Linked DNA regions of Homo sapiens: all the other regions are reported to be linked to region 1. The links are microRNA targets in miRTarBase. Many come from high-throughput screens and were not tested one by one. Region 1 holds a microRNA gene; each other region holds the end of a gene's coding sequence.

The links. Region 1 holds the annotated microRNA hsa-miR-4696 (UGCAAGACGGAUACUGUCAUCU, at 2,987-3,008, opposite strand). A microRNA usually pairs through its seed, bases 2 to 8, with sites in the 3' UTR of a target mRNA and lowers its output. Matches are read on the target gene's strand: a 7mer-m8 pairs with bases 2 to 8, a 7mer-A1 pairs with bases 2 to 7 and ends in A, and an 8mer does both.
Region 2: the mRNA of TBXA2R is a reported target of hsa-miR-4696. Seed matches in the 3' UTR shown: 8mer at 965-972 and 7mer-m8 at 997-1,003.
Region 3: the mRNA of RPL32 is a reported target of hsa-miR-4696. Seed matches in the 3' UTR shown: 7mer-m8 at 2,903-2,909.
Region 4: the mRNA of CRTC1 is a reported target of hsa-miR-4696. Seed matches in the 3' UTR shown: 8mer at 1,574-1,581 and 7mer-m8 at 1,227-1,233.
Region 5: the mRNA of SLC25A43 is a reported target of hsa-miR-4696. Seed matches in the 3' UTR shown: 7mer-m8 at 1,881-1,887 and 7mer-m8 at 2,033-2,039.

What each region holds. Positions count from the first base shown.
Region 1 is chr11:74,717,321-74,723,035 of GRCh38, forward strand. MIR4696 (microRNA 4696) reads right to left here and starts at 3,017; the gene lies at 2,948-3,017. CHRDL2 (chordin like 2) reads right to left here. Exons shown (of 11, transcript NM_001278473.3): 2 at 1,400-1,512.
Region 2 is chr19:3,590,971-3,596,366 of GRCh38, reverse strand. TBXA2R (thromboxane A2 receptor) reads left to right here. Exons shown (of 3, transcript NM_001060.6): 3 at 434-1,860. The coding sequence ends at 679. It overlaps GIPC3 (GIPC PDZ domain containing family member 3), which reads right to left. Exons shown (of 6, transcript NM_133261.3): 6 at 2,826-5,396. Among named protein-coding and RNA genes, the nearest start is that of GIPC3, 8.2 kb to the right of the region's middle.
Region 3 is chr3:12,832,492-12,838,099 of GRCh38, forward strand. It overlaps RPL32 (ribosomal protein L32), which reads right to left. Exons shown (of 4, transcript NM_000994.4): 4 at 1,994-3,732. The coding sequence ends at 3,603. It overlaps CAND2 (cullin associated and neddylation dissociated 2 (putative)), which reads left to right. Exons shown (of 15, transcript NM_001162499.2): 15 at 1,264-2,312. The coding sequence ends at 1,491. Among named protein-coding and RNA genes, the nearest start is that of SNORA7A, 5.2 kb to the right of the region's middle.
Region 4 is chr19:18,776,239-18,781,953 of GRCh38, reverse strand. It overlaps CRTC1 (CREB regulated transcription coactivator 1), which reads right to left. Exons shown (of 14, transcript NM_015321.3): 14 at 1-4,783. The coding sequence ends at 4,572. Among named protein-coding and RNA genes, the nearest start is that of COMP, 12 kb to the left of the region's middle.
Region 5 is chrX:119,451,681-119,457,395 of GRCh38, forward strand. It overlaps SLC25A43 (solute carrier family 25 member 43), which reads left to right. Exons shown (of 5, transcript NM_145305.3): 4 at 329-463; 5 at 1,185-2,798. The coding sequence ends at 1,385. It also overlaps the pseudogene RNY3P16. Among named protein-coding and RNA genes, the nearest start is that of SLC25A5, 14 kb to the right of the region's middle. RefSeq lists a silencer at 4,686-4,980.

The DNA.
Region 1 (5,715 bases):
TATGTGAACTCTGTGAAAGGAGAAATGAATTAACTCCAATGGCTCAAAAAACTTGGACTTTGTCAACTGGACCACATGATATGTCTGGAATTTTCTGTTATGATTTCCTTTCTGTTCTCTGGCTATATTTCATAAAGTCCTTCTTGAAAAGGCTGATTGGCCTCAGATGTGCTAAGGCAAACCGAGGGGAGGCAGTCATGGTGGGGGTTGTGTCCCCATTTCTACTTGGGGCCAACACGGTAGAAGCAGTGGTGAGTCAGGAGGAAAGACCCCAGGAGGAGTGAGACCCCAGTGTCAAAGTCAGGAGGGGGGCTAGCCACCCTCTCCGCCACCCCACAGGATCTCCTCCAGAGCTCTGTCTGCTCCCACCCCAGAGGGTTCTGTTTTAACAAGGGAGACTCTTAGAGGCCTTCTGCATTCCTCTCTTGGCTCTGTGCAGGGAAAGAGTGGGGCTGGGAGGCTGGCTCGGGCTGGGAGCTAGCTACCCCTCCCTCCAAGCACCAACACCCAGACAAAGAAAGCTGGGGACATCCACACTGGGCTCCAGGCAGCTGAGCTAAAGCCAAGGGTTTTTCAGGCCTCCTAAGCCACTTCCTCCTCTTCCGCCCCTCCAATCTCATACCTTACTTGTGAATTCTGGACCACATGGGGGTCTCATTTATTCTACCCAGTTGATTTTACAAGGCCCTGTGGAGGTGCTGGATTGTCATGGGGTGCGATGGGGTGGGAGGAGATGGAAAACAAAAACATGGTCTCTACCCCAGGTGGCTCAGCCTTTGGCAGGGAATCATGCCAGGTGTGAGTGAGGGCCCAGCAAGTCCTAGCCTCAGAGGTTCAGTCTAGGAGGGGCAGTAACTATGTTGCCTGGTCAACAATGATCAGGAGAAAGGGGCAGAGAAACTTATGTGGGATCCCAGAAGAAGAAAATCCTTCCAGGTGGAGGTCATTTTCCCATTTGAGCAAATCCTTGAGGAACAAGTAGTTGGGCTAGTGGAGGTGGGGGAACACATCCTAAGGCAGGGCCAAAGTGGCTGGAGGAAATAGTACGTGAAAAGAAGGGAATGGGAGATAAGGTCAAAAAGGCTCTGTCTTGGGCTGCGTGGGAGGCAGGGAGGCTGGCACCAGCACGAGGTGGAAAGAAGGCTGGGATGTGAGATGGGAGACCAGGGCCCTCATCCCAACCCAGCCACTAATGTTTGTGTGACTTATCTTTGGGAGGTACACAGTAGCCATCTAATCCTATATATTGAGTAGTCAGTAGTGAAGTGGCTTGTCCCAAGTCTCTCAGCTGCCGCTGACAGCACAGTTCTAGAAGGCCTGGTCCTCCTTCTGGGGTGACTTCTCTGGAGGGTTCTCAGACATCCCTGACACAGGTGGTCAGGTGGCCAGAGGAACCTACCTCTGAGCAGGTACAGCGCAGGCAGTACATCAGGCCTTGTGGCTCCAAGTAGGGGTGCCAGCTCTCGCCGGGGGAGTATCTCTTCCCATGGAAAAGGCAGAACATGTCTGGGCCTGGCAAACCGACCAGTGCCATGTTAGTCCCAGGAGGCTCCAGCCCAAAGACCCTGTCTCATTTCTCCTTCTTTCTAGCTCTAAAAGAGATGTCATCTGGGCCACTCAGGCAAAAGAGAATCTGCTAGACAACTGGGCATGCTCTCCTAGGCAAGGGGCCAGAAGGTCTGAGTTTGAATCTCGGCTTTACCACACACTTACTGTGCAACACTGGGCATGCCACTGTCTCTGAGCCTTAACGCTTATCTCACAGGGCAGTTAGGGAATCAAGCAGTGAAATGCTGTACAGATTTATATCATGGTATCAGCGTTAATTATTATGATTAGACAAATGAGGCCCAGAGAGGGTAAGTTACACCTGAGGGCCACACAGCAAGTCAGTCACCAGGCAGCGATGACAGCACCAGTCTCCTGACTCAGTCCCACGCTCCTCTGCCCTCACAATCATGCTTGTTTCCTTTTTATTTGTCCCATTTGGCTTATTTAGTACATCACCTCACCCTTCCCTCCCTTCCCACCCCTCTCTCCTCTCCCATCCCCCTCCCCTGTACACACACACACACACACACACACACACACACACACACACACGTGTACACATTCTCTGGGTCCTGTAGCCCACCTTTTGAACAAAGTCCTCCTGGTGTGAAGATCACCAGGCACCTGTGTAGAGGAGGATTGGCAGGGATGGGGCCTGAGGCCATGGCTCTGGGAGCTTTCTTGCTTTCACACTGTACTATGTCCTTATATTTTGGTGAGCCGTGATGAGAAGGTTGTTAGGAAACTGACTTTCAAGTATCCTTAAAAATGGTCGTTGCTACTACTGTGATTTGTGATTGGCACACCAATGGACTTTTTTGCAATCGCACATCAGTTGTCAATATCTGGATGAATGCTTCTAAGAATTACTAAAATCGTTTGTTCCATGGGTTGGCTATCTCTCCTACAATCCTGCATTCCTGAAACCTCTGCCTTTCTCACCTCCCATAACCCACTGATCCACTCCTGCTCCCACCTCCTACCCACTCACCTCCAGCCCTGGGTCAGACCTCCCAGCCCAGCACTGCAGCCTTGTGCCCTGCCCCTCTGCCTCCCGCCCTATCCTCACCAACCCTCCTCTACGCAGGTACCTAGCGATCTTCACGCCAGCAGGGAAAAACACTCCATTGCCTGAGCTCTTTTCAGGAGGAACTGGGAGGCTCAGCACAAGCTAAGTGCCAGTAAAGGTTTGTTGAATTAAATGAGATTGAAATATGGAGAAGGGAACCAACATTATTGACTATCTTCTCTTTGCCGAACCCCTTATAGAAGTTAATTATCTCATTAACATTATTGTTTTGACCATTAAATTAGATAACGCTTGTAAAGTGTTTACCCAGTCCAGTTTCTGACCCTTAGTTGAATGCTATTATTATGATAATTGTGGTAACAATCACAAAGCCACTGCAAAATGGACATTGTCATCTTCTGGAATAGATGACAGTATCCGTCTTGCAGTGGCTTTGGACTGTTACCACAATTATGAGAAGGCTCACAGAGACTATGCCACTTGCCTAAAGTCCTCCGCTAGGATTTCAGCCCAGGACTCCCGCCTCCAAAGCAGAGCTCCTTTCTCTTCACCTCATCTCTCATCTCCTGTGGCTTTTTACACAATTCCAGGGCCTAAAGGCCTTCTTCTCTCTCTGCCCCACCAGCCACCATCCCCGACTCCCTAGCTTATTCTCTTAGTCCCCTGTTGGTCTAAAATGGAGAAGCTGCCTCTCATGCCTCCTTCTCATTTTCCAGAGTCAAGCGTCTTAGAAACATGGGTTCTTACACTTCCTAAATCACATTCTCTTAGACTTTGAAACAGAATCGCAGAGCATTGAAAGCAGTAATGAGTTGGGTGGGGTGAGCGGGGAGCTCACATTCAGTGCAGGAATTCCCTCTCAGCACTGGGGGCTGGGCTGGCGTGCAGCCCCTGCCTGACACACGCCTCCAGGAAACAGGAGCTCATGGGCCATTCCTAACCATCAGAAGGTTTTCTTTGTAAGGAGCTGGAGTTGGCCTCTCTCGGGTTCCTCATATTGCTCCTGCTCTGCCCTCTTGGGCCTCCTAGAACAAAGATTTGAGACTGCTGTCACGATGCCTTCAGTCTGTGCTTCGAGGGTCGCTGAGAGTAGGAACACATGGCTTAGTTCCCTCGCCATTCCCTTCCCAACTCCGCAAAGTGGAGGAGCGATTAAAGTTCGCCTCTCACATTCCCAGCAAGCCAGCAAGGCCCGGCTGGCCCGTATCAAATGAGCTGTGTTTATCTCTCAGCCTCTACTGGCAGAGAGGGTGGGACACGGGCCCAGCTGGGGTGCTGGTCAGAGCCAGCCCAACTCTCCAAGGAGTGAATAATGTCTTTCTTCCTCAGTCCCCTCCTCCCACCAGGGAGGGGGTGATTGCAACACTGCCACCACCTTAGGTCTCAGCCTGTTGCTGAAGAAGCCCTGTCCTCCCTTCCTTGGGGCAGCCCTGTAGCCCAGGTCTCTGTGCCAGTTGGCACCCCCTTCACCTCACCGCCTGCTCAGAGCATGAAGACAGAAAGAGTGTCTCAGCCAATGCCCAGGCAGGAGGCCCCTTCCCCCCACCAACAGACCTGGCAGAGGCTGAGAATGTGGGGGGCCTGGCAGGAGGCCTCCAGTGGCCACAATCCCCACCCCACCATACCCTAGAAGGTGACAGGCACAAGGAAGGGTGGCATGGCCTGGAGCTCTCTCTTCCTCAAGTGAGATGAGTGCCCAAGGCCATGCCAGAACCAAGCAGGAGGAAGAACTGCCAGACGGCGACAGGCCGCCTCAGTTCCTGCAGTGCTGGCACTAGCCCCAACCCTTGAACATGGCTGGTGAAAACAGTTTTAGTTCTTTAAGCCACAAGTTCACTGTGTGACATTCAGAGACTCATCCTCCTTTCTCTGAGCCTCAGTTTCCCATCTGCAAAATAAGGGGAGGGGGTAAGCTATGATCTTCAAAGATTTTCTGCATAGATACTTTATGAATCCATGATTTCAACATTTGAAGACTCCAAAATTCTAGGATTCTAAGGTTCAGGATTTTGAGAATTCCATGTTTCTAAGAACCTGTCTTTCCTTAGAACACAAAGCTTCTAGAATTGTCCAATGTTGTGGTTCTAAGATTCGATCATTCCAAGATTCTATGATTCTTGGATGTGTTGATGGTCTCATACATCTTAGGCTCTCAGAGGCTCCAAAGTGGGTTAGGATGAAGTTCAGGGAGCCAGTAGGACCAGTCCTGAGTGACACAGGTGTGTCACCTGAGTGTGAAGGAGGTAGAGTTTGTCTCATACCTCACTCCCTTCCCATACACTCCCTTTGGTCCTCTGTGGCGTTCCCACCTCTGCCCTGGCCTTGGACCTGCCCTGATTCCTCTCCCACCCCACCACCAAGTCTCATCCCACCTGTGCCCATGCATCCCTCCCCATCTCAGAGACCAAGCATGACTTTTCTCAGGGACCCTTTGGAGTCAGATCGGCTGGGGTTCAAATTGTGGATTTGGCTTTTATTTGCAGCCTGAATTTAGACAAGTTACCTAACCATTCTGGGCCTCTGTTTCCACATCTATTAAATGGAACTAATAACAATCTTTACCTCTCAGAGTTACTGTAGAATTAGGTCAGATAATATATGTAATATGCCTAGTGCCTGACATATATTATATGCTCAACTAAATAGGTTTAAAAAAAAACAGATCTGGGCACTGACCCCAGACTTCCTTAATAGTTTGTTTCCTGTGGTGTTTCTTTGACTCCCAGAGCTCTCTGTGGTCATCCCCAGGCACCTATTAGGGGATGAACATCATAGCACACACTGAGGCCAAATCTCCCAGGTCTCATTTACTACTGCACCAATCATGATTCTGGTGGCCTCCTGCATTCTTCTAGCCCCACTCATAAATCAGATTAGTTTGCCTCAACTCACCTCAGGCCCACAGACCTTGGGCGGGGATACAGAGATGAAAGTGGCTCAGAAGTTGGAGGAGAGAATGGGAAGGCAGGAGTGAGAGGCAAGAGACCAGTCTGGAAGGAGAAGCAGAGGCTCACGGAGGTCTTTGAGAGCCTGAGAGGCAAAGGAAAGCCATGGAAAAGCTTTAAACTGGGGAGTTCCATGATCAGATTTGCATTTTAGAATCATCACTGTGCTCACAGGAATGGAGAACTGAT
Region 2 (5,396 bases), not on the chromosome of region 1:
TGAGGTCACCCAGCAATGCAGTAACAGAGTGGACACTGGCCGGGCGCAGTGGCTCACTCCTGTAATTCCAGCACTCTGGGAGGCTGAGGCTGGTGGATCACCTGAGGTCAGGAGTTCGAGACCAGCCTGGCCAACATGGTGAAACCCCCATCTCTACGAAAAATACAAAAATTAGCCAGGTGTGGTGGCAGCCACCTGTAATCCCAGCTACTTGGAAGGCTGAGGGAGGAGAATTGCTTGAACCCGGGAGGCAGAGGTTGCAATGAGCTGAGATCGCACCACTGCACTCCAGCCTGGACGACAGAGTGAGACCCTGTCTCAAAAATAAAATTAAAAAACGGAGTGGACCCTGGATCTCAAGGGACCCCGGGCAGGGACCGGGGCGGGCGGGGCTGGAGGCGGGGGCCCAGGCTGACAGCTCTCCCCTTTGCAGGTCTTCATCGCCCAGACAGTGCTGCGAAACCCGCCTGCCATGAGCCCCGCCGGGCAGCTGTCCCGCACCACGGAGAAGGAGCTGCTCATCTACTTGCGCGTGGCCACCTGGAACCAGATCCTGGACCCCTGGGTGTATATCCTGTTCCGCCGCGCCGTGCTCCGGCGTCTCCAGCCTCGCCTCAGCACCCGGCCCAGGTCGCTGTCCCTCCAGCCCCAGCTCACGCAGCGCTCCGGGCTGCAGTAGGAAGTGGACAGAGCGCCCCTCCCGCGCCTTTCCGCGGAGCCCTTGGCCCCTCGGACAGCCCATCTGCCTGTTCTGAGGATTCAGGGGCTGGGGGTGCTGGATGGACAGTGGGCATCAGCAGCAGGGTTTTGGGTTGACCCCAATCCAACCCGGGGACCCCCAACTCCTCCCTGATCCTTTTACCAAGCACTCTCCCTTCCTCGGCCCCTTTTTCCCATCCAGAGCTCCCACCCCTTCTCTGCGTCCCTCCCAACCCCAGGAAGGGCATGCAGACATTGGAAGAGGGTCTTGCATTGCTATTTTTTTTTTTAGACGGAGTCTTGCTCTGTCCCCCAGGCTGGAGTGCAGTGGCGCAATCTCAGCTCACTGCAACCTCCACCTCCCGGGTTCAAGCGATTCTCCTGCCTCAGCCTCCTGAGTAGCTGGGACTATAGGCGCGCGCCACCACGCCCGGCTAATTTTTGTATTTTTAGTAGAGACGGGGTTTCACCGTGTTGGCCAGGCTGGTCTTGAACTCCTGACCTCAGGTGATTCACCAGCCTCAGCCTCCCAAAGTGCTGGGATCACAGGCATGAACCACCACACCTGGCCATTTTTTTTTTTTTTTTTAGACGGAGTCTCACTCTGTGGCCCAGCCTGGAGTACAGTGGCACGATCTCGGCTCACTGCAACCTCCGCCTCCCGGGTTCAAGCGATTCTCGTGCCTCAGCCTCCCGAGCAGCTGGGATTACAGGCGTAAGCCACTGCGCCCGGCCTTGCATGCTCTTTGACCCTGAATTTGACCTACTTGCTGGGGTACAGTTGCTTCCTTTTGAACCTCCAACAGGGAAGGCTCTGTCCAGAAAGGATTGAATGTGAACGGGGGCACCCCCTTTTCTTGCCAAAATATATCTCTGCCTTTGGTTTTATTTTCCTTTGGGTCCAGAAGTTTTCAATCTCTGGAGTTTGTGCATTGGGCCTCACCCGGAGCAGACGAGGGCAGGGCTGGGAAGGATGGGGAGGGACATAGAGGATTCGGTTCCTCCCCCACCTTGTTTCTTGAGTGTTTCCTAATCACTTGATGGGTGGTACCACCTAGAATTCTTCCAGCAGCCTGTAATGGGAGGGCTACAGGTTAGCCCTGGAACCTGCAATCAAACCACCTTTGAATCTGTGTGTCATTAAAAGTAGATATAAATGGGCCGGGCGCGATTGTTCATGCCTGTAATCCCAGCATTTTGGGAGGCCGAAGCGGGAGGGTCACTTGAGGCCAGAAGTTCGAGACCAGCCTGGCCAACATGGTGAACCCCTGTCTCTACTAAAAATACAAAAATTGCAGGGCGCGGTGGCTCACGCCTGTAGTCTCAGCACTTTGGGAGGTCGAGACGGGCAGATCACCTGAGGTCGGGAGTTAGAGACCAGCCTGACCAACATGGAGAAACCCCGTCTCTACTAAAAATACACAAAAAAATTAGCCGGGCGTGGTGGCGCATGTCTGTAATCCCAGCTACGCGGGAGGCTGAAGCAAGAGAATAGCTTGAACCCGGGAGGTGGAGGTTGCAGTGAGCCGAGATCACGTCATTGCACTCCAGCCTGGGCAACAAGAGCAAAACTCTGTCTCAAAAAACAAACAAACAAACAAACAAACAAACAAAAAATTAGCCAGGCATGGTGGCGGGCGCCTGTAATGCCAGCTACTCAGAAGGCTGAGGCAGGAGAATTGGTTGAACCCAGGAGGCAGAGGTTGCAGTGAGCCGAGATCATGCCACTGCACTCCAGCCTGGGCGACAGAGTAAGACTCCATCTGTAAATAAGTAAATAAATAAAACAGAGAAAGAGAGAGAGAGATGCAAAAGCGTGGAGTGATGCCCGTTTCCTCCACTGTTCACTTGTTCACCCAGCAACCTTTCAAACACCACAGTGTTCTGTACAGCACCTTGCACATAGTACGTGCTCAATAAATATTGGTAGAAAGGACCAGTGGCTGGGTCTTCGTGGAGCACCTGTCGCCTGCAGGCACGTAAGCTCATGCCTGTGCGGTGCTTAATGAAGTGCCTGGTACACAGTAGGTGCTCAAGAGGTATTCAGTGTTGCCACAGTTTCAGCCAGCCCCCCAGCCCCACATCTCTGCATTCCCCCAAACTTCCCCCAAAATGACACACCAGGCTGCAGAGATGGAAGGTGCCTTTATTCACCATGAGCCCTCAGGGTACATGCGGTGCAACCCGTCTCCTGCCCTCCTTTTCCCTCCAAGGACCTGGATCTGAGCCAGGACCGGTGAAGCCCCTGTTTTCACCACCGCACACTCCCTACCACCGCCTGCTGGAGAAATAAGGTCACTTGCTGCTTCTGGGGGCCCCAGGCTGGAAGGGACAGGAGAGGACGAGAACCACATGAACCAGGGCTAAGTCACAGCCAAGCTACGGCCCCCCGCGGTAAGGGCGGGCTCCTGGCTCCCCCAGAGTGGGGCAAAGGGCTGGCGCCAAAGCTGGGGACTCAGACAGCTGGGAACTCAGGAGGGCTGCCCTAGGGGCAGGACTAGGAGTGACAGATATGGTGGGTGGGGTGGACTTCTGGGGTCCCACCCGGGGCTTGGGAGAGACGGCTGGCTTCTGGGGGGTTGAGGAGACCTGTGACTGTGGGGCCAGGTAGGAGGCTTGGGGTAAGCCTGGGATGGGGCCAAGGCTGGCCTGGATGCCACATACCTGATCATGGGGCTGAGGCAGAGGCTGGGGGTCTTTGCTAGGGGCTGGGGTGGGGTCTCTGGGGGATGGGCCTGGGGGCTGAGGTTGGGCTGGGGCAGGGGCCTCAAGCTGGATTCTAGGGTCAAGGCCAGGGGTCTGTGGGCAGATTCCATTTCCAGGGCTCAGCCAGATTCTTGAACTGGTGTGAGTTCTGGAACTGGATTGGGTTCCAGAAACAGGCTGGGTTCCAGAACTAAGGTGGGCTCCAGGGCTGGGCTGAATTCTTGAGCCGGTCTGGGTTTCAGAGCTGAGCCCGGTCTCAGAGCTGGACTGGGTTCTGGAACTAAGTTGGGCTCCAGAGTCGGGCTGAATTCTTGAGCCGGTCTGGGTTTCAGAGCCAAACTGAATCCCAGAACTGAACTGGGTTCCAGAGCTGGACTGAGCCTCAGAGCTGAGCCTGGTCTCAGGACTGGACTGGGTTCTGGAGCTAAGATGAGCTCCAGGGCTGAGCTGAATTCTTGCAGTGGTCTGGGTCCCGGAGCTGAGCTGGTTTCCAGAACTAGTCTGAGTTCTGGAGCTGGGTTGGGCTCCGGAAATCAGCTGGGTTCCCGAACTAAGCTGACTTCCAGAGCTGGCTTGAATTCTTGAGCTTATCTGGGTCCCAGAGCTGGGCTGAGTTCCAAAGCTAAGCTGACTTTCAGAACTGCTCTGCTTCCCAAAGTCCAGTTGAATACCAGAGCTGTCTGGGGCTGTGGTCTGGAGCTGGTATCTAGAACCTGGCAGGGTTTTAGAGGCGAATTGAGTCCCAGAGGCTGGTCGAGCTCCTGGGCAGCGCTGGGTCCTGGAGCTGGACCTGCTGTCGGAACTAGACAGGGCTGTGGAGCTTAATTCTATTGCTGCGATGGCCTGGGTCCCAGGACTAGATTGGACTCCAGAGCTTAGCTGGATTCTGGAACTTGGCTGGGTCTCAGCTGCTGTCTGTGTTTTGGAGCTGGCTGGGATTTCAGAACCAGCCTGTGCTCCAGAACTGAGCTGAGTTCCAGAGCTGGGTGCGGTGCTTGGGCTGGATTGAGCTCTGGAGCTTGGCCAGGCCTTGAAATTGGTCTGGGTCCTGGAAGTAAACTGCATTCTAGAGCTGAGCTGCATTGTGCAAGGAGAGTGGGGCTTGGCACCAAGCTGTGTGCTGGAGCTGGGTCTTGCTTCCAAGATGGATGGGGTTCCAGAGCTGGTCTGAATCCTGGAGTTGGGCCTGGTTGTAGCACTAGGCGAGGTTCTAGAGCTGGGCTCAGTCTCAGAGCTGGAATCATCACTGGAGCTGGACTGGGCTGCAGGATGGGGATGGGCACTTGGATGCAACTGGGGTTGGGATCTGGACTGGGCAGCCGTGTGGACCTGGGTTTCTGAGCTGGTCTGAGTTCTTGAATAGGATTTGATTTGGGAGCTGTCTCTGAATCCTGAGCTGACTGGGGTTCCAGAGCTGGGCTGCTTCATGAATCTCACATGGGTTCCAAAATTAACTGGGGTTCCGGAGCTAGACCGAGTGTCCAGGTGTGGCTGCATCGTGGAGCTGTCCAGAGTTCCAGAGTCAGCTTGAGTTTTCCAGCAGGGCTTGGTCTCCGAGCTAGCCTGGATTCTGGAACTGGGATTGGTCTCCAAGCTGGTCTGGGTCTTAAAATGTGTCTGGGTTCCAGAGTTTGGCTTGTTGTCAGGGCTCAGCTGGATTCTAGAGATGTGCTTCGTCTCAGAGCTGGCCTGGGCTTCAGAGCAGGGCTTGGTCTCAGATCTTATCTGGGTTCTAGAGCTGGGTTTGGCCTCAGAGGTGGCCTGAGTTCTAGAACAGGGCTTGGTCTCAATGCTGGGATTGGTTTCAGAGCTTATCTGGGTTCTAGAGCTGGGCTTGGTCTCAGGGCTGACCTGAGTTCTAGAGCTGGGCTTGGCTTCAGATGTGGCCTGAATTCTAGAACACGGCTTGGTCTCTATGCTGGGCTTGGTTTCAGAGCTTATCTGGGTTCTAGAGCTGGGCTTGGTCTCGGAGCTGGCCTGGACTCTAGAAC
Region 3 (5,608 bases), not on the chromosome of region 1:
TCCACAAGAGCCACTCATCTGGCCACGCGGAGGATGCTGTCTGTTGGGCATTGGGATGAGCATGGGTAAATCCACACCCACAGTCCTTACCCATGACCCTGAAATCTACCAAGCTCTGACAACCAAAAGCTTTTTAGGAACCTGTTTGTCACACAACTTGACTTGAAGTGGCATGAGGCTATGATCTTTAATTCTTACCAATGTACCACTTTTATATAAGGGACTTGATCATCTGAGGATTTTGGCATCCCCTGGGATCCTGGAACCAAACTCCCATGGATACTGAGGGACACCTGTACTACTCACATTACTCATACATGTAGTAGAGTATTCATGTATTTGATTACAGGGTATTGTACAAAACCCCTCGGGAATGTTATCTGCACAGTATTACCTTTCTAAAACCCAAAATGTCTTGGATTCCAAAGCACATCTGGCTCCAGGGGTTTCAGAGAAGGGAGTGTGGACTTGTGTCGTTTAATCCTCTTGGCAACTCTTACGACGAGGCAGCTCTTACTTATAGATGGGGAAATGAGGCTCAAAGATGTAGTTACCTGAAGTCACAGCTCTTGGGGGCAGAGCCATTTGAACACAGGACTCTGCAACTCCAATGCCAAGCTGTTACCCACTGCATTGAATTCTTTAGGAAGAGCCCAGCATAATAAGGAACTTGAACTTTAGTCCATAAGCAGTGGAGGAATTACTGAGCTCCTCTGCCTAGGTAGGAGATGGTGGGGGAAGAGGAAACAGAAACTGCAGGAGGTAGTTTGGGGTGCTTACACTCCGGCTGCATCTGCAAAACTGATTGCGGGGCAGGGACTTGAGTATGGGGAGGAGGCTGCTAGAAGACCATCGCAGTGATCCATTCATTCAGTCTAGTCATATGGTGCTAAGAGCTGGTTTTAAGCACAGCAAATATAGGCTGGATCCCTGCAGTCTGTAGGAGGTAAGTATGGGAACACAGTACTTGCCACTGTCAATTAACAAAAAGCGAGCACTTCAGATTGGCTGCTCAGAGGCCCCTCAGGCTGTACTCAAGCTGATTTGAATGGCAAAGAACCTCTGTGGGGAAACTAGCCAGTGCAAAAGCCCAGAGGTGGAGTTAGGAAATAGCTGGTGAGACAGAAGCCTCAGGAGACCTCGCAGCAGGGATTTATGTTGGGGAAGATGATGGGGCAGAGAGGAAGCCAAAGACCAGTGAGGAGGCAGTGGTGTGGGCCAGGCTCAATAAAGGATGGCTGCTTCTGCTGTTTCCTACTTTAGGTCAAAGCTGGTTCTGTGAAGCAGGAGTTTGAAAAGCAAGATGAACTGAAGCGCTCTGCAATGAGGGCAGTGGCTGCCCTGCTGACCATCCCCGAGGTGGGGAAAAGCCCCATCATGGCCGACTTCTCTTCCCAAATCAGATCCAACCCTGAACTTGCTGCCCTCTTTGAAAGCATCCAGAAGGATTCCGCTTCAGCCCCCAGCACAGACTCAATGGAGCTCAGCTAGTCCCCTCAGCACCAAGGTGGGCCCTCGCTTAAGAGAAAGGAGCCCACCCAAGTCCGAGGCCTCCCCATCCCACCATCGCAGGTCTCTACTTTTGCCCTTCCACCATCTCACTGGGGGCCCTGTCGCTCCTGGTCAGGGCTTACAGTGCCTTCTCCAGGGACCCAACTCAAAGGCCCCCAGCCCAAGCTGTGAGGCTGCCAACAGTTGGGCCCCTTCCTTAACTCAGGACAGTCATCCAAAGAAATAGGGTGAGGAAGTTTTCCAGTGACTTCACACTGTACCCCTCCATAGTCTGTCTGGTTCCTTCAGAGGGTGTCTCTGCCTCACAAACTAGTAGTATTTAGAAATAGGCTGTGCTGTCAGCTGTAAAAGATCAGGAGGCAGCAGACACCACTCTGGTTTCTTCACTGCATTCAGCAATGCCTGAAGTTAGTGCTCAGGCCGGGCATCTCAAAAGAAAAGATACTTGAGTTATTCACATTTTAAAATTCAAAACGGTTCATTTTTAAGTGGCAGTGATGAATCAGAAATTTGGAAGATGATACGGGTTTCTTTTTTCCAGGGAGGAGGAATGGGTTGGGTAGGGAACTGGACAGGCTTGGACCTCATGTTTCATTTCTAATTTCAAAATACTTATTAGCAAATTGGGCAACAATGGGCATCTTCCATGCCACCACCCAGGCATAACCAGTTGGTTTGTTTCCTTCTGAGGAAGGTTTCAAATGTGTCTAGTGTTCAGTATTGAGGACAAAGAAATACAAGTGGCAGGCCCAAGTATTTTCTGTGATATCCCAGGTTAATAAAGATTAGATTCTAAGTTACTTCTTTCCTCTGCACGACTCGTCTCCAATTGTTAATCGAATCGCCTGAACCCAGGAGGCAGAAGTTGCAGGGAGCCAAGATCAAGCCACTGCACTCCAGCCGGGGTGACAGAATGAGTCTCAAAAACAAAATCCCAAAAATGACCAGTTTGCATTATAAATATTTATGACTAGGTTTTGAACAGGAGACAATCTGTAAGATTCCTGTCTAGACTAGAAGTAGAAAAGCTTTATTATACCCAGCGCAGCATTTCTGCTAAGTTGACCAGGATGGTTACAGAAAAACATCCTGTAAGCATTTCTGTCTCATAAGTACCACATCCCATATCCCTCATGACCTATATACTACAGAAGATGCCTGTAATCCCAGTACTTTGGGAGGCTGAAGCAGGATTGCTTGAGCTCAGGAGTTCGGGAGCCTAGGCAACATGGCTAGACCACCTCTACAAAAAAACTTCAAAAACTACCCAGGTTTGGAGGTGTGCATCTGTAGTCCCAGCTACTTGGAAGGCTGAGGTGGGAAGATCACCTGAGCCTGGGGAGGTCAAGGCTGTAGTCAGTGTGCCACTGCACTCCCAGCCTGGGTGAGAGCAAGACCCCGTCTCCAAAAAAAATCAGGACCACGTGTCACTAAATTCTGAGTACCAGTCAAGAGGCTCAATTGTCACCAGTTAGGTCCCCGCCTTGGCAAACTGCTGTAACATTATACCTGAAGCAGCAGCTGGTGGGAGGGTTATAGGAGACTGAAAGTGCTTTTCCAGTTAACCGTGGTGGATTACCTGGAAGAGCAATTTGTACATCATCCTGTTCTTTTTGGACAGAAGTTACAGGATGCAATTTAGGCATCCCGTAAGAATCTGTGTAAGAAATTCATCTGGATATTTCCATGCATATTTTCTCAATTCTCACAAGCATCACATGGAATAACTTGTCACCTAACTTTACAAAAGCAAGGCTAAGAATGACTACTTGTGGCTTGGGAGCCACAAGCTTCTTCAAGTGTCTCAGAACCTACCTGGTGTGAGGGCCAAGTCTGTACCCCTCATACCCAGCCTCAACTGGAGATGACTAAGGCTAGTCTGTGCACTTGAGGCCACATTCCCCTGTTCAAGGACTGAGTGTCCTTTACAAATCCCCTCCAAATGGGAGATTCCAAAGGGGCTTAAGCAAAAGAACAATCTCTGTGGCAAACTAAGTTGGCCAAGAAGCTGAAGACTTAAAATCAAGGAAGGAAGATGCCAGATGGCAGTTTTTACATTTATTTAAACAGAAAACGTGCACATGAGCTGCCTACTCATTTTCTTCACTGCGCAGCCTGGCATTGGGGTTGGTGACTCTGATGGCCAGTTGGGCAGCTCTTTCCACGATGGCTTTGCGGTTCTTGGAGGAAACATTGTGAGCGATCTCGGCACAGTAAGATCTGCAAGAGAATCAAGTAGGTAAGGAGCAAGACAGCCCTCAACACACTTGGAAAATTCCATTGGAGAGGCAATGAGTCCCAGCACCAAGCTAAGAGAGGGCTGCTTGGTAAGTGGCTGTGGAATGACACCTACATGCCCCCAAATCCTGACTATGGTTCCCTGGTGGTGACAAGAATGCTTTCATTAAAAAGTACCCTCATTGTCCCCTCTCATCCTTATAGCAGCCTTGTAATCCAGGCATTACCTCCATTTTACAGATAAAGAAACCAAGGCCCACAGCAAGCAATGGACAGGGATCCGGGGCGAACCCAGGCCCACACTCCAGGTTCAAAGGTTCTCCCCCAGTCACAGGGTGCTTGACCTTGCCCATGAAGGTTCAGAACTCTTTGCAAAATGGTCAAGAGCAGAACCCAAGAGTCTGAATGGAGCCAAGAGCACCTGGTTTGACTGCTGAGGATACAAAGCAAGTTGAGAAGCAACAATGCTTAAAGTCACCCAGTCATAGCCATGCCTATTACCTGAGGACTTCAGATCCAGTTCTAACTCATTCCTCACAACTTTTTAAGAGGCAGCTACACTGTGCCCCATTTGATAACCAATAGGCCTAACAAGCACACTTCAGTAAGGAGGTGATTTATGAAGCCACCCACAGTGGTTAAGAACAGACATTCCACCCCTAAAGCATTTTCAGCAAAGAGAGAAGCAGCAGGACTGTGAGGAGTGATTGAGGCAGTGGACACACAGCTCTTTTCAAGAACCCTGCCTTAACAGCAAGACAGCAAATCCAGACAATTCTTGTTTTATATGAGTCCACTCAAATTCAAAGCAATTGTATTTTTAAATGTTTCTACGTTTTAAAGACTTAGGTTATATTACACTTCTCATCTGTCTTTACTTTTCAAAAAACCCTCCTGTCCTTGTCCATCTATATATTTGATAATCACAATCAGAGTGTACCCACCATTTTAAATGTGTCCCCCCTGGCTTGGGCATTTTCCACACTACAACACTCGAATCATTTTGAGTGGACCCACAACATTTTATCCAGCACTCTACAATTCTCTCATTATATTTTCAGTTGTTTCCAGTGGGTTATTGCTGCAATGACTAGCTTTAGTTTGCCTGCTTTTCCATTCCTTAAGGACAAATGCCCAGAAATGGAACTTAGAGATCAAACGTCAAAGAGTATTTCTATGGATCTTAAAGACTGCCAAGCTGCGCTTACAGAGCATATGCCAACCAGCCAACATGTGCACTGCAACTGAGTAATCATGTTGGCCATACAACAGGTATTGCCTGTTACAGTTCAACTCATACAGCCAACTGTGGTTTCAGTATCCACCATTAATTCCTTCGCCCATCTTTTCTAACAGAAATTTTCAGCATTTCAACGCCTGGTTAAATTTCCAATCTTGGAAGGTAACCACGTTAGAATACTGGTCTTGTTCATTTTTATTACTTGTATCTACAACCACTGTAGGTGAAAGTTATCTTTGTAAACGTAAACACAAACATCCTAGTTAGTCACACACACTCCATGTTCTTTCTAGTTTACTTAGGAAAATTCAGCTTTTTGGCTTTCATTTACCAGTAAGTGAAGAAAATAAACTGTCACTTCCCATGAGAATTTTTCATTCCACTGCCCTAGTTTTAATCTAAGCAGGTCACTGAGTCTTTTATACACAAAGCTCACCAAGTGTCTAACTTACTCAAAACACCTAGAACTAGCTGGGTGTGGTGGAGTGTGCCTGTGGTCCTAGCTACCAGGAAGGCTGAGATAGGAAGACAGCTTGAGCCCACCTTGAGTTTGGGGCTGCGGTGTGCCATGATCACAGCTGTGAACAGCCACTGCACTGTAGCCAGGGCAACACAGAG
Region 4 (5,715 bases), not on the chromosome of region 1:
CCTCCTGGTGGGCAGGAGATCAGAAGTTCTTGATGGCTGGGCTGGGCAAGGGTTGCCCCCAAATTCCAGAACACTTCGAGATGGGGGCCATCCCCCGACCCCAACACATGCCACCTGTCCCTGGCTCCTGGGGGTGGGGTGCTGGCCAGGAGCCCAGAAGGTGGATACAGGCTCTGGAATCATCAGAGCCAGCACCACCCCAAGGCCCAGCCCCTGCCCCCCATCCTGCCCAGGAGGAGCCCGGGGCCCTGAGACCTGCAGGTTTGAGAAAGTGACAAGAGAGAAACTGAGGCTGGGATCACGAGGCACTCACTCCTGCCCCACCCATGCCCTCAGGAACTCCCCAGCACCCAGGCCTGGGGGTACAACTTACTCCACCTCCTGCTCCCAGGGGGAGAATGGTGTCTGTGGCCAGTGGGGGTGGGTGGACACCTGTGCCACACGGAAGAGTATGGGGTGCCTGACCCCTGCCTGGCCAGGACCCTGGAAGGCCAAGGGCCGCAGGGAACAGGACACTTGGCTCAGGTGGAGCTGACGGGAGAATGTCCCAGGGACCCCCAAATCACATGCCGCAAGAGCCCCCAGGAAATGGAGGCCCCTGGTCCATGGTGAATGGGGGTAGAAAGAGACCCAGGTGTCCATGTAGCCCAGGCAGGCCTCCCAGGGTGAGTGAGGGGCCGAGTCTTGCCCCTGCTCTTAGGCTGTGTAGGGAAGGCTCTGGCGCCCGCACGCCCTGGCCCAGGGCACCACATGTGGGTGACGGGCCAGGCCCAGGGGCACATCTGTGCCATCGGCTTTGTGGCCCTTGCTCTGAGAGCCCCTGCGTCCCACCCCCACACAGAGGGCCCCTCGGCCTCTGAGACGGCTCCATCGGGACCCAGTGAAGGTGATGGGAGCTGCTGTTTTCAGGGCGAGGTGACAGAGGACCCCCGAATACCGCTGGACCTTACTCCACCAGCCTCTCCCTGGTCGGAGGGCTCCTTGGAAATACAGAAAACTCAGGAAGCAGGTCGCAGCCCGAGTTTGGAAGGATGTTTGGTTAAAAACCAGCTCAAGGCCCACCTAAGGGAGGCACCAGAGCCCCCTCTAGGGACGGGTCCTGCCAAGGCTGTTCAGGCCTGGGATGCTGGGCAGAAGTGGCTCACACCTGTAGCCCCAGAACTTTGGGAGGCCGAGGAGGGAGGACTGCTTGAGCCCAGGAGTCCGAGACCAGCCTGGGCAACACAGCAAGACCCCATCTCTAAAAAAATAAAATAGAAGCCACCCGGCCTGGCCCCCCATGGGCTTCTGGCAGGCTCCTGTCCCACCTGACCGGGCTCAGGCGAGGTCCCAGCTCACAGCCCCCAAGCCTGACATCCAAGCCCCAGCAGGAGGGATGGATGGACATGGGGGGCCCTCCTGGCTAGGGGTCCTCCCGGGAGCTTGGCCCCCTGAAGAAATCAGGCCAAACACACTGATGCCAACACTCTCCTCCCCAGAGCCGAAAACCCACAAGCAGGGCCCTGATGAGGGCAAAGAACCCTCTTCTCTGGAGGACACAGAGAGAGGCTGAACTTGGGCTACACCCTCTGCCTGCAAGACTTGCCACCCTGGGTAGTGACGTCGGCGAAACAGGAAGGTGGGGACGCCATGCTCTCAGGAGGGAGAGCCCTGGCTGAACTTCGCCGTAGGGGACCGATGTACCCAGCAGAGGGTCTGCAGAAGCCATGAGCACATGGGTGCGTGGGGAGAGCAGCCTCTAACCCAGTGTAGACCAAGCATCCGGGCCTGACCAAGGACACAGACGGCGGGTCTATGTACACGGCGCAACCTCCCCACGTGGGCCTGCCCCTCAGGAAGCGGCTCGTCAAATCACAGTATTTTCACATCACAAAGCAAAAGGCTGATTCCCTTAAGCTGTCTTGTTTCAGAAAGTCTTGGCAATTCAAGAATATGTAGTAGTGATATTTAAAAAAACCACACGTACGCACACACAAAAGGCCGTGATACAGACCCCCTGGGAGGCCCGCCCAGGTCCAGGAGGGGCGTGAATCCTTCTGGAACACAGGGACGCCTGGCTGCTGGCTCCTGGCTGGGCCCCGGGTACTCGCGTGGGCCCCACTGTCCCTGGCAAGCTCGGACCTCGGTCCACCAGGTTCTTATTGGAAAAAGAACTCCATAATGGACCAAGGTCGTCACGTTAACACAATGTCACTGTGAATCTGGCTTCAGGATGCTGAAAATGGGCCACGGGCCTGGGATGCTCCGAGGTGGGCATCCCTCCTCTCCTATCTGTCCACACCGAAGACCAGAGGACAAGCAGTGGCGCCCGCCGGAGGTTGGACGGATGGGGTATGAGGTTTCCTAGCATGGTCCTCAATGCCTTCTTTTGAAAACCGCATCCAGGCGGGTTGCTTGTAATTTTATTAAGGCCATTTTTTTTTAAGTCCTACATACAAGTCTAATGGTAATGAAACTCTCCTATGTACATGTAGTTTTTCTTAAAAAAAAAAAAAAGTCCCCGCTGTCTGCCCCCAGCCTCTGTCATGGTAAGAGAAAGGGACCTTGACCTGGACAGACCAACAGTGTCCCCCCCGCACCTTGGAACAAGACGGCAGCAGGAGCAACGTGACCAGGGAGCCTTCTCCTATGAGTGGCCACTTGGCTGCTCAGACACATGCCAAAGGCATTGCCGGGCAAAGAGAGGAAGGGATGGTTGCTAGGATCAAACCCAGCTCTGAGGACAGAAGCCAGGGTGCCCAGGACCCCAGTGAAAGCAGCAGCCATGACACTACAAATAAACGGACTCAGCAGAAGGCGCTGTCCCGGCAGGCAGGAGCGAGCGAGAGCCGCAATGCAGTTTTGGGGGGATCAGAACAGCAGTTCCTATTCCAAGAACAGCAGAAAACAAAGCCAGCCCTGATGCCTCCCTTGCAGGGCCCGTGGTATGGGGAGGGTCCAGGACAGCTCCCAAGTACCCTGTCACCCTGGTCTTAGAGGTGCTCCTGAAACCTGCCACTAAAACACACACTGCTGTGTGTCTCCAAGTCCACCTGCCACGACCCTGAGCTGCCAAGAAGGGGCAGCCAGCAGACCACGCTGCCCAAGAGAGGGGGTGTGGGCTAGGAGCCAGAGGGTAGGGTGGAGAGGGGATGAAATGCCAGTTCCACCCAGGTTCTCAGGGAGGACCGTGGTCCTCGTCTCGGGGACCCTCGCTCCCTGCCAGTCCCCCACACTCTTGGGGCAGAGAGGTCTCAGCTGCCACTGGTCATGGCATCTTCACACACACACTCTAAGGACTAGCAGGCACCTCTGGGAGAGGCTGGCAGGCTGGGTCTTTGAGAGACCCTCAATAAAAGCCAAGGCCCCTTCCCGGAAGTCTGTTCTGTGGCCCTGGCAGAGGCACCTCTGCCTACCGTGAGCTCCTGACAAGGCCCTGCCCAGCCTGACCAGCCCTTTTGTTTTGAGATAACTTGGGGTGAAACCCAAAAGCCGGACTCACTTCTTACACTCAGGTGGGTGGCGGGCTGCTTTGGGGCGCATGGCCTCCATTTCCAGTTAGCTTAAAAAATAGGTAAAGTTGGATTTCTGAAATAAAAACATGCTCTCAGGCAAGTGTTGGCTTAAAAGATTAAGCGAGTCATCTACAACCAAAATGTAACTAGAAACTAAAAGGAAAAAAAAACCACAATGAAACTCCCCTGGCCACCTCTGCCTGTACCTTAAATTAACAGCATCTATGACAGGACCGGTGACCACAGTGCAGGACAGGAGGGGCCACGGATTGTAAAGCCCCAAGAGGTAACCCCTGCCTCCGCGTTCGACCCCTCACGGGGCCTTCCGGTCACTTCCCGGCAAAGGTGGCCACCGATGGGCCTGCCTGCGGTGAGGCAGGGCTTCGAGGGGATGGAGACAGGGCGAGGAGGGTCGTGGGGGGGTCCGCCGCCCTGCATGCTCTGTCCACTTTGCGCCTGCCCCGGTGGACGCCAGGGCTCTGTGTGTGCTCAGAAATATAAAAGACAGCCGTCAAAATAGTGTTTATTTCACTTTGCGTCTGCCCCGCGCTCTGGCGCCTCCTCCCTGGGGCGGCGTGGGGCTCACTCTCTACCTGACCACGGGCTGGGGATGGCGGATGGGCTGGGGGACCGGGAACCAAGGAAGGCAGTGAGAGCTGGACAAACAGTCGGAAAATGCGCCACGGCCCACAGCCCTGGCGGACCATGCGCGCCCCTCCCCTGAGCCTGCCCGCCACGCCGGGAGCTGACACTTCCCGCATCTTACAGGGGACGGCTCAGGCCCCGGGGCTGGGGGCGAGGGAGCCAGTGCAGGGAGGGTCTGCAGGGGCGGGAGGCTCACGGCCTCCGATCCCAGCCCAGCCCTGGGCGGGCGGGTGGGTGGACGGCCCGGCTCGCGGCCTCGCGATTGGGCTTCGCGGGAGGTGGACAACCGGGGGCGGGCTGGCGGGGGGCGCTTGGCGGCATTGCAAGCTCAGAATCACAAGCTCGGCCGTTGGCGAGGGACGGAGCACGGCCGTCCCCGGGCTGGGGAGGCGCCGTCGGGACGGCTGAGCGGCAGGGTGCCGGCGTGCCCGCTCACAGGCGGTCCATCCGGAAGGTGTCCTCGGTGGCTGGGTCGGCCAGAACCATGTCGGGGTCGTTGAGCATGTGCAGTCCGTCGAGGGTCAGGGGGTCGATCTTGAGTTCGTCCAGGGGAAACTGGCTGTCGGAGTCGAAGCTGACGTCGCCGACCCCGGCCAGAGAGCTGGTCAGTTCTTTAGAGAGGCTGGGGGGGGACTCTCCTGTCACTGGGGGATGGGGTGGGGACAAAAGGCACTGCTTAGCCCTGGCTCCATCGCTCGCATCCATGTGTCGGACCAGGCATGCCCGCCGGGCGACTCTGTCCCCTGGGTATGCTGGCAATGTCTGGGGACATTCCAGCTGTCATGACTGGGGGAGGGGCCAGCACATGAGATGCTGCTCAGCACCCTACAGTGCCTGGACCCCAGAGACCAGTCTGGCCCTAGATGTCAGCTCCAGATGTCAGGAGCACCAAGGAGAAGCCTCGGGCCAAGGGCTGTGTCACTGATGCACGTCAGCATGACCTGGCGAGGGCAGGGACCTCCCCGGCTCCCTCAGCCATGAGGGCTGCTCGGCACGAGTCACTGAGAAGCAGGCTGGAGTGACTGTGGGGACCCAGCTGCTGCTAGGGCTGGAGGGAATCCTCAGTTCCCCCACAAAGACCCGGGTTCAAACCTAGGCTTCCACCTACACTCAGGTTCCAGGTCTGAGAAATGGGGCTGAAACGCCCTGTCTTTCTGGGCTCTTGAGGCCATTGCGGGGGTCAGATTCTGATTCTTCTCCTGAGTCTGAGGCTGGCGCGTCCACCCTTGAATTTCTCGTCAACTGCTGCCTACACCCGAGGGGTGGGAAGGAGGTGCTGGATTCTGCACTCAGAGCCCAGGCCACAGTGGGGGAGCACTAAATACGGACACTTCCAGCCTGGAAGAGGCCAGTGAGGACTGCCAGGGGGCGCATCACCCTCAATCCAGCAGCCCTGACTCATAAGGGAATCATCTTCTTCAGCAGGGAGACAGGGTCTGGGTTCTGTGCTAGATGGAGCCGGGTCTTCCTGATATGTGCCATGCAGGACGGGGCTGGCTTGTCCCCAGGAGCCCAGGCGCCGTGCTCAGACTGCTTGGGCGTGGTTGTCACGGTGCATCACGGCCCTGACCTGTTA
Region 5 (5,715 bases), not on the chromosome of region 1:
GGCTAAGGGCATGGGATTATGTTTATCATGTCCAGAAGGCACAGGTTGGGAGGGAATGTAAGTATGAAATTGAATCTGTCCCAAATGTCTGCTTCCTTCCAGGCAAAATAAACGACAAATATATGGACAGGGTATCATGATTGTATTGCACGTTAATATCTGTTCTAAGCCCACAGAACAAGAAGAACCCCACAGCAGCCATTCTTTGCCATCATCTTGGCCAGGAACCCAGCATCCAGAATGTAGACTTGAGACCCTGGCTCCTTCCACTAGGACATTTATTTCCTAATGTTTCAATCACCTCATCCCAGCTTCTGTTTCCTGTCAGGCTCAGAGCCCCTACCTCCCACACAGTGGAGGAGTAGATGTCCATTTCTCAGGAGCAGTGGACTGCTTCCGGCAGATAGTGAAGGCCCAGGGGGTCCTGGGGCTCTGGAATGGATTGACAGCCAATTTACTGAAGGTGAGAAGAGCCACCAGCCTCCGCTGCTCCCCTGCCTCTTCCAATTCTACCCTCTTCCTTTGTCACCCCCAACCCCTACTACAGTTTGCTTGGAAAACCCCCTCTAGCACTAATGGGTAGCACAAGGCCCATGAATGCACACTGTCTGTCAGCCCCGTAGAGAGGGGAACCTGTGCAGTGGTGGAGTATCTTATACCCCATTCCAGAGGAGCTGAGCATTTAGTGCAGAGATACTTAATGTGGAGGTTCATGGGCCCCTAATGGGAACCTAACCCCTCATCCTAAAATTCTATGCAAAAATGTATGTGTATATGCATATGTGCATCATATTCCCAAAGAACTCCATGACAAAAAAAAAAAAAAACAAAAACAAAAAACATTAAGCACTCTGGACTAACCTTGCACTAGCTGGCATGTAAATGATTCCAGTCAAGGCCAGCATATAGTGACAGGTAGTATCAGATAGTCTGCGTGCATATGACCCAGATCTAGTGCCTCCCAGGCAGGTCATGCCCTTCAATCACTGTCATTCCTCTCCCAACCCACACTGAGCCAGCTTTCCTTTTGCCATCTTTCCTGATTCCAAAAAGAGTTACCATTTGTATTGCCACCGCCATTATCTCACTTTACAAGATAATTTACCCTGATCCAAGTTGACTGCAGACACATTGATGTTTTCTTTTTAAGAACTTAACTTGATTTTCATTTTTGGTTTTAACAGATAGTTCCATATTTTGGAATTATGTTTAGCACCTTTGAGTTCTGCAAGAGAATCTGTCTTTATCAAAATGGTTACATTCTGTCTCCACTGAGCTATAAATTGACCCCAGGAGTCGATCAGAGTTTGCAGCCCCAGGAATTACGAGAATTAAAGAAGTTCTTCAAAACGAGAAAACCGAAGCCTAAAAAACCAACTCTATAAAATGGAATGGAACTAGAAGTGCACTGACTGACAGCATGTTGCAATCACAGATAAATGTAGCCTCATAACTGTGCACCTGAGGAGGGATGAGAAGCTACTGCTATCTGCTGCTCTGGGAAATGAGATGGTTTGGCCATGCACCACCTCAGATCTCCAAACTGATGTCCCTGTGAACACCTGCACTATGAGAAGGTTTCCCAACAAGAGTGTATCATGATGGCATTCCACGAGATTTTATAACCAGAGTCTAGCAGTGATAAAATGTACAATTTACGCTCTGAATAGAAACATGACACCAAAGAAAGGGCATTGCCATGACATCTCAAAGCAACAGGTAATTGAAGTGGCTGAGTGGATACCACGTTGTGAGGTCAGCCACTGGGTCACTTGTAGTCAATGCAAAGCTTGCACAAACCAACGTCAGCCTAGTTTCACTCAGTTTGACCTGAGACTTTCCAATACAATCTGTTGTTTTGTTTTGTTTTTAGAGACAGGGTCTTGCTCTGTCACCCAGACTGGAGTACAATGACACAATCATAGCTCACTGCAGCCTTTAACTACTGGGCTCAAGACATCCTCCTGCTTCAGCCTCCAGAGAGTTGGGACCATAGGTGCACACCACCACACCTAGCTAATTTTTTGGGGAGGTCTTGCTATGTTGCCCAGGCTGGTCTTGAACTCCTGGGCTCATGCAATCCTCCTGCCTTGGCCTCCCAAAGCGCTAGGATTAGAGGTGTGAGCCGCTGCACCCTGCCCCAGTACAATCTTTTTTGAACTCAAATTTTTGCTGACATCTGAGTGCACACACCACAGTGTAAATTATGCCTTATCAGAATCTAAATGAAAATAGCGAACATTTAAAAGCTATCACCATTGTAGTAGAATCATCCTTCTTTTTTGAAATTTGAAGCATCCCAGGCTTAAAATCTTGTGTTTCAGAAAGACAGTTTATACCATGACTGCTTAATTATCCCCCCAAAGACCTTCTGATTGAAGTCATGTACAGTTCAGTGGCCTAAATTCTCTGCCTTTTTAACTTGCTTTGCAAGCCTACTCTGAAAATAAGTTATTTAGTCAAGTTATTCTCAAAGATGTCCCAGTTGCCTAGAAAGGATCAAATGGAACATTTGACACACATACTCAAAAAAATGTAACTGACTATAAACACTTTAACCTAATCATCTGTATCAAACTTTCTAAAAATCAAATCTCAGGATTGTTCCACTTTAGAGATTCTATGTAAAGTTTATATAACTATACTTGTCAAATAGCACCTATCTATGCATTTAAAAATGCATTAATATCTAACATAAAATTGTTAATTTATACACACACATACACTCATACATAGAGAGAGATTTTCGGTATGTTGCAAGTATTTTTTCCGATTAAATTTATTTTCCAAAGAAAAAATGATGTGTTGGTCATTTATTGCTAGTCTGAGTTATAAAACTATGGTTAAATACATATTGGCCAAATCTGTAAACTCTCAAAGCCTTATCCTATTTAAGTATACCAAAATAATTCACTTTTCCAACTGCTGCGGCATTCTGTTTTATGGAGAATGGCAGTTAACACACACACACATGGAAATCTCATCTGTAGCTCAATCTGTTAGAGTTTGGAGGGTGGCAGATTCTTTACCCAAAGTGAATAGTTCATGTTTATTACTCTTTATTTTCCTTGAAACAGACAACTTTTCAAACAGTTCTGAAAGCTGCAAAAATATTTTTTACTTTTTTAACTATAAAATCCTAACCTCACATTATTTCATGATAATATCTTGTGTATTCTTCCACAAGTAATTTTTTTTTTAATTTGAAAAAAAAAATTGTCACCCAGGCTGGAGTCCAATGGCGTGATCTCAGCTCACTGGAACCTCCTCCCGGGTTCGAGCAGTTCTCCAGCTTCAGCCTCCCGAGTAGCTGGGATTACAGGCGCCTGCCACCATGCCTGGCTAATTTTTGTATTTGTAGTAGAGACAGGGTTTCACCATGTTGGCCAGGCTGGTCTCGAACTCCTGACCTTAGGTGATCTGCCCACCTCTGCCTCCCAAAGTGCTGGGATTACAGGTGTGAGCCACCACACCCTGCCCTTCCACAAGTATTATTAAATAGATAGCTAAACTCTTGCAGTTGTCATGCACAGAAATGTTTTCTGAGCTGCAGTTTTGATTTTTTCTTCATTAAATTAAGTGGGGAAAATAATACGCCTGATTTTTCTAATTTCAGAAGAACTCTAAAACTCTTGTTCTGTTTCTAAAATAAACTTCCAGCTAATTTCATTTTCTTTGGATTATGAAGAGAGAGTTCTGCCTTTCTGCTTTATGGCTGACAGTGAGCACCACACTGGACTAAGTACTTGAGAAGGATTATAAAGATGTGTGATGCAATGTTGACTCAGGAGGAATTTATGGTCTTGAGGAACAAATCATACCTACATATATGAAATGACTATGATTACAAAGCAAATACAAGCAAAGGCATGATAATGTAGTATGAACTGTTCATAAGATTGCCAAGAAGCTCTATACAAACTTAGTGAATAAAAAACTAAAGGGATCATCACATGGGAGAGAGACTAGTGATCAACAGGGATTTGGGGAGGTTGTGAGTCTTTTTTTTTTTTTTTTTTTGAAACAGAGTCTCGTTCTGTTGCCCAGCCTGGAGTGCAGAGATGCAATCTTGGCTTACTGCAACCTCCACCTCCTGGTTCAAGTGATTCTCGTGCCTCAGCCTCCTGAGTGGCTGGGACTACAGGCGCCTGCCACCATGCCCAGCTAATGTTTGTATTTTCTTGGTAGAGACGGGGTTTCACCATGTTGGCCAGGCTGGTCTTGAACTCGTGACCTCAGGTGATCCACCTGCCTCAGCCTCCCAAAGTGCTGGGATTACAGGCATGACCCACCGCACCCAGCCATGAGTCTTGAACTAAGTTTTGAAAGAAGTTAAGGGATATGTATTGGTCACGAATAGGAAGGCATTGCAGGTTAAAGGCAGGGCATTGCAGCATCACAGAGATGGAAGCAAGCAAAAGTGGGTCAGAGCAAGAAAAGTGGCTTTGTGCATTTATTCAATAACTGCTAGGCACTACAGACACAGTGGCACAAAAGGCAGATAAGGTCCTTGCCTTCAAGGAGCTTACACTCTAGTGAGAGTGGCAGTCAATAAACAAGTAAACTAATAAATAATTTAGGTAATCATGGACTGTGATGTTATGAAGGTGCTTATATAGAGGGTGCTTTATTAGAGAATTATGTGGAGGTAAGGGGAATATTTTATTTTTGGTTTTTGTTTTGAGACAAGGTCTCGCTCTGTCGCCTAGGCTGGAGTGCAGTGGCGCGATTTCAGCTTACTGCAACCTCTGTCTCCCCGGCTGAAGTCACAGGGGAATATTTTAAATCAGGGAGCCAGAGAAGGCCACTCTGACAGGTGACATTTGAGATGAGACCAGAAGGATGAGAATGAGCCAACTATGCAAAGAACCAGGGAGGGCTGGTCAAAGTGCAGTGGTGTTTACAAGTAATTGACCACAATCAGCTACAGATTTCTTTGTTCCTTCCCACTCCCACTGCTTCACTTGACTTGCCCTAAAAAAAAAAAGAAAAAAAGAAGGGCTGGGCGCGGTGGCTCACGCCTGTAATCCCAGCACTTTGGGAGGCCAAGGCAGGCGGATCACTTGGTCAGAAATTTGACACCAGCCTGGCCAACATGGTGAAACCCCGTCTCTACTAAAAACGCAAAAATTAGCTGGGCCTGGTAGCACACACCTGTAATCCCAGCTACTCAGGAGGCTGAGGCAGGAGAATCCCTTGAACCCGGGAGGCGGAGGTTGCAGTGAGCCGAGATTGCACCACTGCACTCCAGCCTGGGTGACAGAGCGAGACTCCGTCAAAAAAAAGAAAGAAAGGACAGAAAGGAAAGAAAGAGAGAGAGAGAAAGAAAGGAAAGAAAGGAAAGAAAGAAAAAAAAGGAAAGAAAGGAAAAGAGAAAGAAAGAAAGAAAGAAAGAAAGAAAGAAAGAAAGAAAGAAAGAAAGAAAAAGGAAGAAAGAAAGAAAGAAAGAAAGAAAGAAAGAAAGAAAGAAAGAAAGAAAGAAAGAAAGAAAGGAAGGAAAGAAAGAAAGAAAGAAAGAAAGAAGAGAAAGAAAGGAGAGAAAGAACGAGGGAGAAGAGCATTCCTGGAAAGAAGAGAAAGAAAGAAAGGAGAGAAAGAACGAGGGAGAAGAGCATTCCTGGCAGAGGGAAGAACAAGCACAGAAGTGTGGCAGTGGGAAAGCCTTGGTGAACAGAAAGGAGGCGAGGGTAGCCAGAGTGTGGTGAGAGAGTGGGA